Homo sapiens: one gene and its partners. The protein of the gene in region 2 purifies or fractionates together with the protein of the main gene of each other region. This does not show direct contact. Each region holds a gene or a part of one and is shown on either strand. Other genes may lie near its edges.

What was found.
Region 1: the proteins of PIGT (region 2) and GID8 purify together in Homo sapiens (co-immunoprecipitation; 3 studies listed by BioGRID and IntAct, with this or other methods). This does not show direct contact.
Region 3: the proteins of PIGT (region 2) and MKLN1 purify together in Homo sapiens (co-immunoprecipitation; 3 studies listed by BioGRID and IntAct, with this or other methods). This does not show direct contact.

What each region holds. Positions count from the first base shown.
Region 1 is NC_000020.11:62,940,997-62,944,646, reverse strand, and holds part of GID8 (glucose-induced degradation protein 8 homolog), read right to left. Parts: intron 3,157-3,650; 5' UTR 3,145-3,156; coding exon 3,027-3,144; intron 1,661-3,026; coding exon 1,464-1,660; intron 1,153-1,463; coding exon 955-1,152; intron 1-954. UniProt on the Homo sapiens protein: Core component of the CTLH E3 ubiquitin-protein ligase complex that selectively accepts ubiquitin from UBE2H and mediates ubiquitination and subsequent proteasomal degradation of the transcription factor HBP1.
Region 2 is NC_000020.11:45,419,039-45,422,688, reverse strand, and holds part of PIGT (GPI-anchor transamidase component PIGT isoform 1 precursor), read right to left. Parts: intron 3,395-3,650; coding exon 3,294-3,394; intron 3,217-3,293; exon of another isoform or gene 3,186-3,216; coding exon 3,099-3,185; intron 2,554-3,098; coding exon 2,466-2,553; intron 2,358-2,465; coding exon 2,260-2,357; intron 2,162-2,259; coding exon 1,996-2,161; intron 1,307-1,995; coding exon 1,106-1,306; intron 1-1,105. UniProt on the Homo sapiens protein: Component of the glycosylphosphatidylinositol-anchor (GPI-anchor) transamidase (GPI-T) complex that catalyzes the formation of the linkage between a proprotein and a GPI-anchor and participates in GPI anchored protein biosynthesis.
Region 3 is NC_000007.14:131,442,770-131,446,419, reverse strand, and holds part of MKLN1 (muskelin), read right to left. Parts: intron 2,940-3,650; coding exon 2,718-2,939; intron 647-2,717; coding exon 517-646; intron 1-516. UniProt on the Homo sapiens protein: Component of the CTLH E3 ubiquitin-protein ligase complex that selectively accepts ubiquitin from UBE2H and mediates ubiquitination and subsequent proteasomal degradation of the transcription factor HBP1.

The DNA of each region.
Region 1 (3,650 bases), about 18 Mb from region 2:
CTTAACTGCGAGACACTCTCAGGACATGAAATACATAGTCCTTGCCTGGGGAAGCTCACAGTCTGGTTGTTAAACGTCACATGCAACCTCGATGGCAGTTAAGTGCCATGAGCAAGCCTTGAACAAAGTGCTGAGGGGACTGGGAGAGAGGTAAGACCAGCGTAGCAGGACATACCAGCACCCTCCTCACAAGCCTCAAGAAAACATCTCAAGTGGACTCTAGGACAGGCCATCCTTCCAAGACAGCGTAGGGAGGACAGAGCCCCCGGGAGAGGACCCGGGGGAAGAGGGACCTGGGTCTGGGAAGGCGAGGAGCTGTCATGTTCTGCCAGACAAAAACATAGCAGCGAGGAGAGAAAAGTTTCAGAAGACAGGATTTTAAATGAGAAATACTTGGGACATAAACAGAAAGAAGGTTCAGATAAATATAAGACACCAGCAAAGGGTGTGAATACTGTGTAACGATCACCAAGTCCGTTGTCCCTAGTTTGACAAGATAAAAGATTAAAAGCCAGAGAGAGGCTGAGCATGATGGCTCACACCTGTAATCCCAGTACTTTGGGAGACTGGATCACCTGAGGTCAGGGGTTCAAGACCAGCCTGGCCAATATGGTGAAACCCCATCTCCACTAAAAATACAAAACTTAGCTGGGCGTGGTGGCACACTCCTGTAGTCCCAGCTACTTGGGAGGCAGAGGCAGGAGAATCGCTTGAACACAGGAGGCGGGGGTTGCAGTGAGCAGAGATCTCGTCACTGCACTCCAGCCTGGGCGACAGAACAAGACTTCACCTCCAAAAAAAAAAAAAAAAGCCATGAAGGAACCACTTAGCATCCCAGGCACAGAAGCCACCTGTCTCTCAGTCCACACAGCAAAGCCACACACTTGGCGTTGTCACGAAGCCCCCTCAGAGCACATGGGGAATGGAAGAAAGCTTCCCTCTGGCAGGCCCCACCTTCTGCCTCTGCATGGTGTGGAGGAGGTCTCCGAAGGGCGACTCCTCGGGACTGTCAAAGGCCAGCAGTGCCAGGGTACGCTCCATCTCTGTGAGGCACTCTCGGCTCTCCTCGCCCTGCTCCGCCAGCTGAGTCTGTGCAAACTCCAGCGCCGCCTCTGTCTCCCGCTGGCGGATCAGCTCGATCAAATGCTGTTGCTGGAGGCAGAGACAGACAAGCTTGACCCCCACACACCCAGGCCAGGGACTTAGGGCAGGTGGTACCAGGTCCCAATCAAAAGTACATCACAGAGGGAAGACTTTTCTTGCATCTCTGAGTTATCAAATTTGCATTTTTAAAACAAAAAACCGCTTCTGAACTACATAAAAGAGCAAACTCAAACCTCTCCCCCTCACATGCATTGAAATAACATTATTAAAGCAAATTAGCCTAGTTATTTCTCAATCATTGCAAATAACTTTAACTTATCAAGTATTCACAAACCAGACTACTCTCTCCTGAAACATACCTGCAAATGGAAGTAAAGATACCGGTTTGTGTCCAAGAGCTCTGGGTGGAGGCTGTTGATCAAGGCGATGGCCTCCTGAATCTGACCTTTCAGTATCATCTCCCGGATCTTGATTCGTTCATCAAGTGTTTCCAGATCCACACTAGGTTCGATTCCAGATTCCATTCGAAACTTCTCCGCTGCTTCCTTAAAGCCCTCTGAATAGAAAAACCATCTTCACTGCTAGGAAAGTTAGCAAGGAATTAAGGCAAAGACTTTGTATCTCCAGAAACTCCAATTGCCTCAATTAATAACCTCTGATGTGAACCACACTTTCTCAGGAACTCGGTATTAATATCTTTATAATTTACAAGTTATGCTCTCAAAATACATATAGAAAATGAGAAGAGTATACTTCATTCCTTGTTATCCCATCCAAAAACTCTAACCCATTAGCCAAAGAGGTCAGAATGGCTGCTGGCCCAGTGTGTTGGTGTGGGCTCCTTTGAGAGGACAGATAATAGGTCCAGACGCCAGCAGCCGCAGCTCTGGTGCCAGGTTAGGCAAGTCACACTGGCTCAGCCTCCACAGCACAGGGGCCCTCCATGGTCAGCTATACCTGCAGTGGCCTGTTGACTCCCACCTCTTAAGAGTGTCTACAATTTTTCAAAGCCAGCATGTGTGCCCCTTCCCCTGCCCCTGACATAATTATAGGCCTAAATTTCCTCTTCACCTTCCAAAAATATTTTTTTTGAGATGGGGTCCCACTCACTCTCCCAGGCTGGAGTGCAGTGGCACAATCTTGGCTCACTGCAACCTCCGCCTTCCGGGCTTAAGTGATCCTCCCACCTCAGCCTCCCAAGTAGCTGGGACTACAGGCACAAGCCACCACATCCAGCTAATTAACATTTTTTTTTTGTAGAGACAAGGTCTCACTATGTTGCCCAGGCTGGTCTGGAATTCCTAGGCGCGAACAATCTTCCTCTGTCTCTCAAAGTGCTGGGACTATAAGCATGAGCCACCATGCTTGGCCCAAAAAAGTTTCACAGAGATTAATTTGGGAGAAGGAACTGGGGACTAACAGGAGGGAGATTTTTCATGTCATGTCTTTTAAAAACATCTATTTTCTTGCCATATACAGCACTGCCCTTCCTCCAGTTGACATCAAGAACAGCCTGACTGTTATTTCCCTCTGCACGCTTCTGCTCTTCCCCATTCCCATCCTCTGAGTTGGGCATACTTTCCAGAAACAGGCCAGCATATTTTTGCAGACTGGCCAGAAGAGATCAACTATTTAGGCTTTCAATATACTTACTTCACAACAGTCTCAATTATTTTGAGTAACTGTAAAACTGTCAAAGGCTGAAAAATGGGTTTGTGTTAGGTCTCAGAGACCTGGAAAAATCTCATCTTCAGAAAAGGCTTTCACATGATAACTTCCAAACTTACCAGGTTAGCATTGTGTTTTCATAATGTCTGAACACAAATAACTACGTCATCAAACCTCAGTGCTACAGCACTCCTTATGTGTTCAAAAAGGGAGAATCACATTCATGCAACAGCATCCTCACTGTAAGCCATTACCTGTGACCAGGTAGTTCATGATGAGGCGGTTCATGTCTGCTCTCTGGACATGCAAGTTATTGAGCTTTTCCATCCACTCATCTTTCGTGATTTCATCGGGTTTTTCTGCATAACTCATTCTGATTTATTTCTACAGGAAAAAAATAACAGCTGAGGGAGGGGTTTAGATGCTCCTCCAAGGGCAGAGGGCAGCGCTGGAAGAGCTGTGAGCCGGAGAATCCCACACTGAGCATGTACGGAAAGACAACGCTGCCGTGGGACACCCACCAGACTGAGAATGCCAATGCTTAGCAAAGAATAAGTTCACTTCAACTTTTTCTACTCTGGTATCAGGAGAACGGACTGTGCTACAAAAACAATCTGGTACTCCTTACAAAGCTGAACATGTGTGCTCCTCACAACCCAGCAATTCTACTTTTAATACATTTATATTCTAGAAAAACTCACCAGGATGCACCAAACACAGACAACGCTGTTCACAGAAGCACCGTTCAAAGCGGCAGGAATGTGGAAGCCACCCACCTGAGCGTTCATTCAACAGCAGCGTGGACCAAGGGACTGTGGCGCACAGAACTGCATGTTTAAAACCCTTGGGCAGATGGGTTTTGGAATTCAGAATTCTTC
Region 2 (3,650 bases):
GAGACTGAGGCAGGAGAATCGCTTGAGGCCAGGAGTTTGAGACCAGCCTGTGCAACATAACAAGACCCTGCCTCTGTGAAAAAATTAAAGGCATGGCGGTTCATGCCTGTAGTCCTAGGGAAGCGGAGGTAGGAGGATTGCTTGAGCCGAGCAGTCTGAGACTGCAATGAGCCATGATCATGCCACTGCACTCCGGCATAGCTGACAGAGCAACAGTCTGTCTCTTAAAAAAAAAAAAAAAAGGCTGCAGGGTGTGTACAGGGGATTATTACACTATTCTGTTTGGGTTTGGGTTTGAAATTTTCCAAAGGAGAAGATTTAAAAGAATAATAACAGAAAAACCTATAGAATATGCAGTTAGGATGTCTGAAATAGAGATTTTGAAGGTGGTACAAATAATGGTGCTGAAAATAAGTGAAACTATTCACCGTATGTTTGAAAATATAGGAATCAACTAAAGTACTGAAAGGTTTTTAAGTTTGGCCGTTTGGGATATGGTACAACCTCTTCCTCAGAGGTCTTTTACTTTACTACTAGTCTCCCCCTACACCAAAGAAAGGCAAGTGCTTTAGTGCTATGCCTGGCACCTAATAGGAAGCACTAATATTATCTTCTCCTTAGAAAAATAATAGAAAATAAAAATAAATTTTAATAAAAATAGAAATAAAAAAATTTAATTAACTGTACCTCTTTACCCCTCCCAAGGAAGCAAAACACCATCTACTCCAGCTCTGCTATCTTCCTAGCTTCAAAAGCCTAACGTTGCCAAACCCTTTCCCTACCTTAAAGAGTCTATGAATCATCACAAAACCCAATGCTCCAGAAAGGAGGCAAAAGTAAGTGAAAAAGGAAGCTACTGTCCTTGTACAGTCCTATTAAGAATCACCAGTATTATGTGTTTTAATTATTGCTGTTTTATAAATTACTTCTGAACCTGGCACAGTGAGGCTCCCGTTCCAGTTTTGAGAAACTATTCCTTACTCTTTATGCCTGTGTAGCTTTTCAGAGGTACTTCAGGAACTACCCTGGGAAATGAGAGTTTGGGGGACCTGGAGAGGACATGAGAGGGCGGGCTGGGGGCCTGGTTCAGGACTCAGGTCCTCACTTGGTTTGTTCTCCTTGCCCTTGGAGGTGATGGTGAGGGTGTGCACATACAGCCGCAGATACCAGGGTACGGTGTCCAGCAGCAGCACCGGGAAGGCCCGGTATGGGTGGGTGTTGTACAGCAGTGTGCTCAGCTCCCCCTTCTGCAGCCCATAGCCACTCACGTACCGCTGGGCATGCAGGAAGGGCACTGGGGGGGCCTCTGTGTAAAGAAATATCAACAGTTAACAGCTGCCAAAGGTAAGAATCACTCCCCACCCCACCTGCCCAGGCCATGTTCAGAGTCCCAAGCCAGTGAGTAGATGGGGAACAGCCCTGCCACTGAAACTGGGCAATCTGGGTTCTGGAATCATCCCTGTCTTCCCCAGCCAACAAGCGATGATGACAATAGGTTGCTAGTATTGAAGTGCTTACGTGACGAACACCGTGCCCCCTTCGAACCCAATCCAGGTCCTCTCAGGATATTCTGCTCTTTCCCTTGGTAAGGGAACTGAACACAACTGTAATTAATTAACTGACACCTGCCCTAGCTAGTAGACTTATATTTCTTGAGTGCAGTGTCCTCTGTCTTATTCAACACTCTATGCCTGGCACTTAGTATGAATTCAAAAGTATTTGGTTGATTAAGCAAATGCATGAACTAACTCCATTTTTCACATCATCTCATCCAATTTGCTAAGTATACTCTATTTTTCAGATGTGGATGCTGAAGCTTGGGGAGTTTAGGAACCTACCCAAAATCGTAGAGCTTGGAATAGCTACAGTCAGCAGCATATGACTCTGGAAATCTGGTCTAAATACAACCCAATCATCTAACGGCAAAGACGTGGGATTGTGAGTCTTTTCTCTGTAGCCGTTGCAACCCAGCAGTCCAACCAACCACCCACTCACCATTCTCTGGGGGTCTCTTCCACTTGAGCTGGATGTTGAGGTTTCGAGAGTTGTTGATCATGGCGGTGTCAAGCAAGTCATAGATGGCATAGGTCTTCCGAGTGCCTAGGATGACGTCCTGATATGTAGTGGTCGGGGGTGGGTGCACCTCTAATGTCTCGTTGTCCTGGGGACACAAAGGCAGGGCTAAGAAGCAAGCAGAGAGGGTAGGCTGGTCCTGGGGACCAGCGGTGTGTTTGTGTGTGTGGCTGGAGACCTTGTTACCTGGTTGTAGGTGGTGATGTCCACATAGACTCGGCTCTCTGAAGCCAGGGGGCAGGGCTCCGTGAGGGTTCGGGAGAACATCCGGAAGAGGGACCAGTCTGAGAAACAGAGCGCAGGGCTGAGCAGGGGCCAGGCCTAGGCCTAGTCCACATAGATAAGGCAGGGCTGGCATGGGTGGGTACAGATGAGTTGCCAAGGTAACTTACCTTTCTTTCCCTGCCCCGTGATGAAGGCATCAAATACAACTGACAGGGTCTGCCTCAGCTCCCAGGAGATGCTAGTACAGCGTGCATTCTATCACAAGGGCCAGATGGCAGCAGTGAGGGGGTATCACTCTCACCACACAGCCCCCAAAAAGACTCCTACTCAGACTCAATCCCTCATCTATGTATCTTCACATCCATCGATTTGCTACCACCCACTCCTGAGCACTTGACCTCGTGCCAGACCCCGTGCTGACAGCTGTATGTGCATCAGTTTGATAAACTATCACAACAACCCTAGGAGTGGATTCTACTATCAATGTCATGTGGCAGGGTGGGAAACCAAGCTCAGGGGAATGAAATGATTCACCCAAGGTTACGCCAGCTGGCAAGTGACTGAGCTAGCAATTGCACCCGCATAGCTATTGTTCTGAACCACTATTTTCCATGACAAATATTTATTCAGTGCTTGCTAGGCAACCACTGTTTTCTTGGTGCTTGGCCAATGCCCTGAATAACCGTCATCACATCTACCACTCAGTACTCACTCAGCCTGAGCCAGACACTGACCACATGCTTTACATGTACCTTCTCTGAGCCCCTGGATGGCAGCTTCCTCTACTCCCCATGACTTACTCTGCAAACAGGGCGGATATGCACTGCCTGGGAGTGGTAGCTGGTGTGGAACAAGCGATCTGCCTTCAGCAGCACAGAGAGGCCTGCCTGGAGGAGATGGAAAGAGATAAGAGAAGCCCTGTATGGAGCACTTGGCATGGGGCGCAGGTTCTCTATACACCCCCCGCCCCCGGCTGCCAGGCTCTGCGGCCTCACCTTGGAACTACAGGGCAAGAGCTTCTTCCAGGGGGTGAGGTTTTCGGTGCAGACCACCTCCCGCGGCAGCACAGCATAGCGCAGAAAGTAGTGGTCAGTGTCTGAGGGAGACAGAGGTCTGTCTGGGGTGGGCCTTGGGCTCTGACCCCTCGGGATCCACATTCCAGAGATGGGAATGACCCTCCTGCTCCCCACACCACCTCTAGCACCACAGTCTGGACAGTCCCAACTGGGAGTAGGACTCCCTTCTCTCCTTGGGAAAAGGCATGCAGAGATGGCACAGTATTGGGGGCCTGCACACACAGGGGACTTAGGATCTAGCCCAGGCTGAGGAAGCAGGAAACTGAGGGAAAAGGA
Region 3 (3,650 bases), on a different chromosome or scaffold from region 2:
TTGAAAATGAATGGAGCACTATTAATAATTATGCCAGGGCAATATGCATAATCTAAGCAAACCAGCCATTCCACTACTAATAACCTCCTAGATGCTGAGCTTTTAAACTTACAAGGTGTTACCAATCCCATGAAGTTCCCCCCTTAAGACACACACCCTACTATGCTAGTGCCTAATATAAAGATCACTACAGTGAAAATAGAAGATGAAAAAAATTAGCAAACACAGAATAAAAAGTTTTTAAGATATTGATTCTTCCTACCCCGCCCCCCAACAAGCACACACACAATTCATTTAGAAATTCACATATTTTCTGCTTGAAGGAAATAGTAATTCCCATATTTAAAAATAGATAGAACTGAATAAGCTGGTAGAATTTTCTTTCTCTTACTTGGAATTACTCAATTAAAGAAATAAAGAAAGGGTGAAAAATGATTAGAAAGAAAAGAGAATGAACTGCAGTTTTCTACCTAAAGTAGTTAAGACATGAGAGAAGAAATCACTCAATGCCCTTACCCATCCCAGAGTCTTTCTTGGTGCCATCTGATATTATGTCTACATGATCAGAGTCCACATCATAACTAAAGAAATCATTCAAATAGGTCTTTGATCGCTGGCCACCAAATACATATAAGCAACGATTTTTCTGAAAAAGAAGAAAAAAAAAAAGAAAGGAGTAACTTATCACTTCCATGAAGAACTCAGAATGATCCTTTAAAAACTTAAACCTCTACAAAAGTAATTTTATAACAGATCCCAATGGAGTACTATGCTGGAATAAAAGGGAAAGAGGAAGCTCTCTACATATTGCTAAAAGGGGATCTCTAGGACATCCTGTTAAAGAAGAAAAGCAAGGTGCAGAATAATATATACAGGTTCCTTCTTCCTTTGTGTAGGAATGGAGAAGAAGGAATATCTGTGCATCAGACAAAAAGAGAGGGAGAGAGGGAAAGAGAATGTGAGAGAGGGGAAAAGTGAGAGAGAGAGCACGCAAGCGAGAGCGAGAATAGAGATTGCTTCTTTTTTTGAAAAACAAAGGAAGGATAAACCAAAACCTAATAAAAGACAGTTACCTATAGTGGCAGGAACAGAGCAGGAAGACCTCTCCAAAAATAATACCTTGATGTATGGTTTTGACTTTAGAACAATGTATATGCTTTTATTTAATTAGAAGACAAAATTAACTCAAAAAAAAAATCTAAAATTTGGGCAAAAAAAATCCAACAAATAAACCTATCTGTATATAAAGATATACTCAGACACAGAAATAGTATTTCTAATGATTTTAATACATACTTTTTGACTACCCATCCCTAGAAGTCTAAATCCTAAACAGAAAAATAATCAGAAAGCAACGTTAAACAGCACTCAGTGATTCTGTTGTTAGTTTTCTTTACTGTGAAAGCTATTATAGACAGACAAAGCAACTAATGTTATGAAGCAGGATTTTAACCTTAAAAGACACAAAAATAGGCCAGGCATGGTGGCTCACACCTGTAGTCCTAGCATTTGGGCAGGCCAAGGTGAGAGGATTGCTTGAGACAGCCTGGGCAACACAGCAAGGCCCTGTCTCCTACTTCCACTTCCACTTCCACTTCTACTACTACTACTACTACTACTACTACTACTACTACTACTACTACTACTACTACTACTTCTTCTACTACTACTACTACTACTACTACTACTACTACTACTACTCAAAACCCAGGTGTGGTGGTACACACCTGTAGTTTTAGCTACTTGGGGGGCTAAGGTGAGAGGATCATTTGAGCCCTGACATTCAAGGCTGTAGTGAGCTACGATCTGCGCTCCAGTCGGGGTAAAAAGAAAAGATATAAAGTTACAAAATAGAAGACATTAAGATAAAAAATATTTTATTTGAATCAGACATATCAGTATGAATTCACAATTTAATTTTTCTCTTACAAAAAAAGATACATAAATATGTTGTGGGGGGTGCTCCTACTAGCCAAAGAGAAAAATTTGAGCATCAAGAAAGTGGCCAGGTACAGTGGCTCATGCCTGTAATCCCAACACCGCAGAAGGCAGAGGCGGGTGGATCACCTGAGGTCAGGAGTTCAAGACCAGCCTGGCCAACATGGTGAAACCCTGTCTTTACTAAATACAAAAAATTAGCCGGGCGTGGTGGTGCATGCCTGTAATCCCAGCTACTTGGGAGGCTGGGACTACAGGCACAGGTCACCACGCCAGGCTAATTTTTGTATTTTTACTGGGGATGGGGTTTCGCCATGTTGGCCAGGCTCGTCTCAAACTTCTGGAATCAAGTGATCCACTGCTCCTGACCATTGCTGATACATTTAAATTCTAATTCTATAAAATCAAATCTTAAATTCTTTGTACTTAATGGAGAATAGCAGAAGGGAAAATAAGAACAGAGTAAGAAATTGTCCTTCTAATTACTAAGAGACGTAAGTGGAAAGGCATAAGAAAGGAACATAGCTACAAAATCTACATAAGCAGTGAAATTAGTCATAAGATTGCCCAGGTTGGTAGCCAGGTAGTAACTATTTAGGAATTACCAGGTTGATGGGAAGAGTCTCATAATTAGCAAACAGTTCACTGTTAAAGAAGTTTTGTCTTTCTCTGTCATTGCTACACTAATCTCTTCCTAAAGAATTAGATTTCACCACTTCTTTTCCTATCTAGATATACATGACAAAATAACATTTACGCAATGTACGGAATGTTCTTACTGAGTGGAATAACATGCAGTGTCCTATTCGAGACTGGATGTCCTCAGGCCCAGCATTACAGGAGTCCTCTCGAAGAAGTTTCCAGGTTTGACATTGACAGTTGAAAGCAAACAAGCCACTGAATTGTGGTTCACTGGCTCTGCTGTCATCTACGCTGCCATTACAAGTCAAAATTCTACCACCAAAAGTGTAGATCATATGTTTTTCTGAGTCCATACACATCTATCAGAACAAGGCAACAGATTGAATAGTTTTAGTTTGTTCCTGTCATATGTGCTAAAACAAAACCAACATGTACAGTTTTACATTCTCAAAAAAACCCTAAACTTTGTCCCTAATGACACTAAATACCACCCCTGATTATCATATGCAAGTTTCTAAATAATTTTTCAAGTTGTCATTTTTGTCAGTGAGGGTAAAAACATGTTGGAATAAAGAGCTTTCTGCTTTCTTGAAATTGCATAATTTTTATCAAAATCAACCAATGATACATGAGGCGTTGATTTATATGTAAGAGTGAATACTTATATTCTGGGTGAATAGTGATCATACCCTCCTTATAAAAATTCCCTTCTTTCATTCTAGGCAAGCATCCTATTAATATTACTACCATTTACTAAGCGATCAGATATGCAAATAAGAGTGGTGAAGCTAAATTCACCTCTCTGCATTTATTTTTATAAAACCCTTCAGATTATGTTACAAAACAGTAAAACAAACAAACAAAAGGACATTTACAACAATCAAGTCTCCAGACTGACTTCTACAATGTGAAGAACTCTGCCTACTTTTAACATAGCACTATTTAATTTTCTTTGAATTAAGCTATACACTTCATGTTTAAAAGTCAAGCTTTATTCTTCCATTCTTTCAACTCAAGATTATAACTTTTCATAAAAATGTGTGAGAAAACAGCCATTTGTCACGAGACAA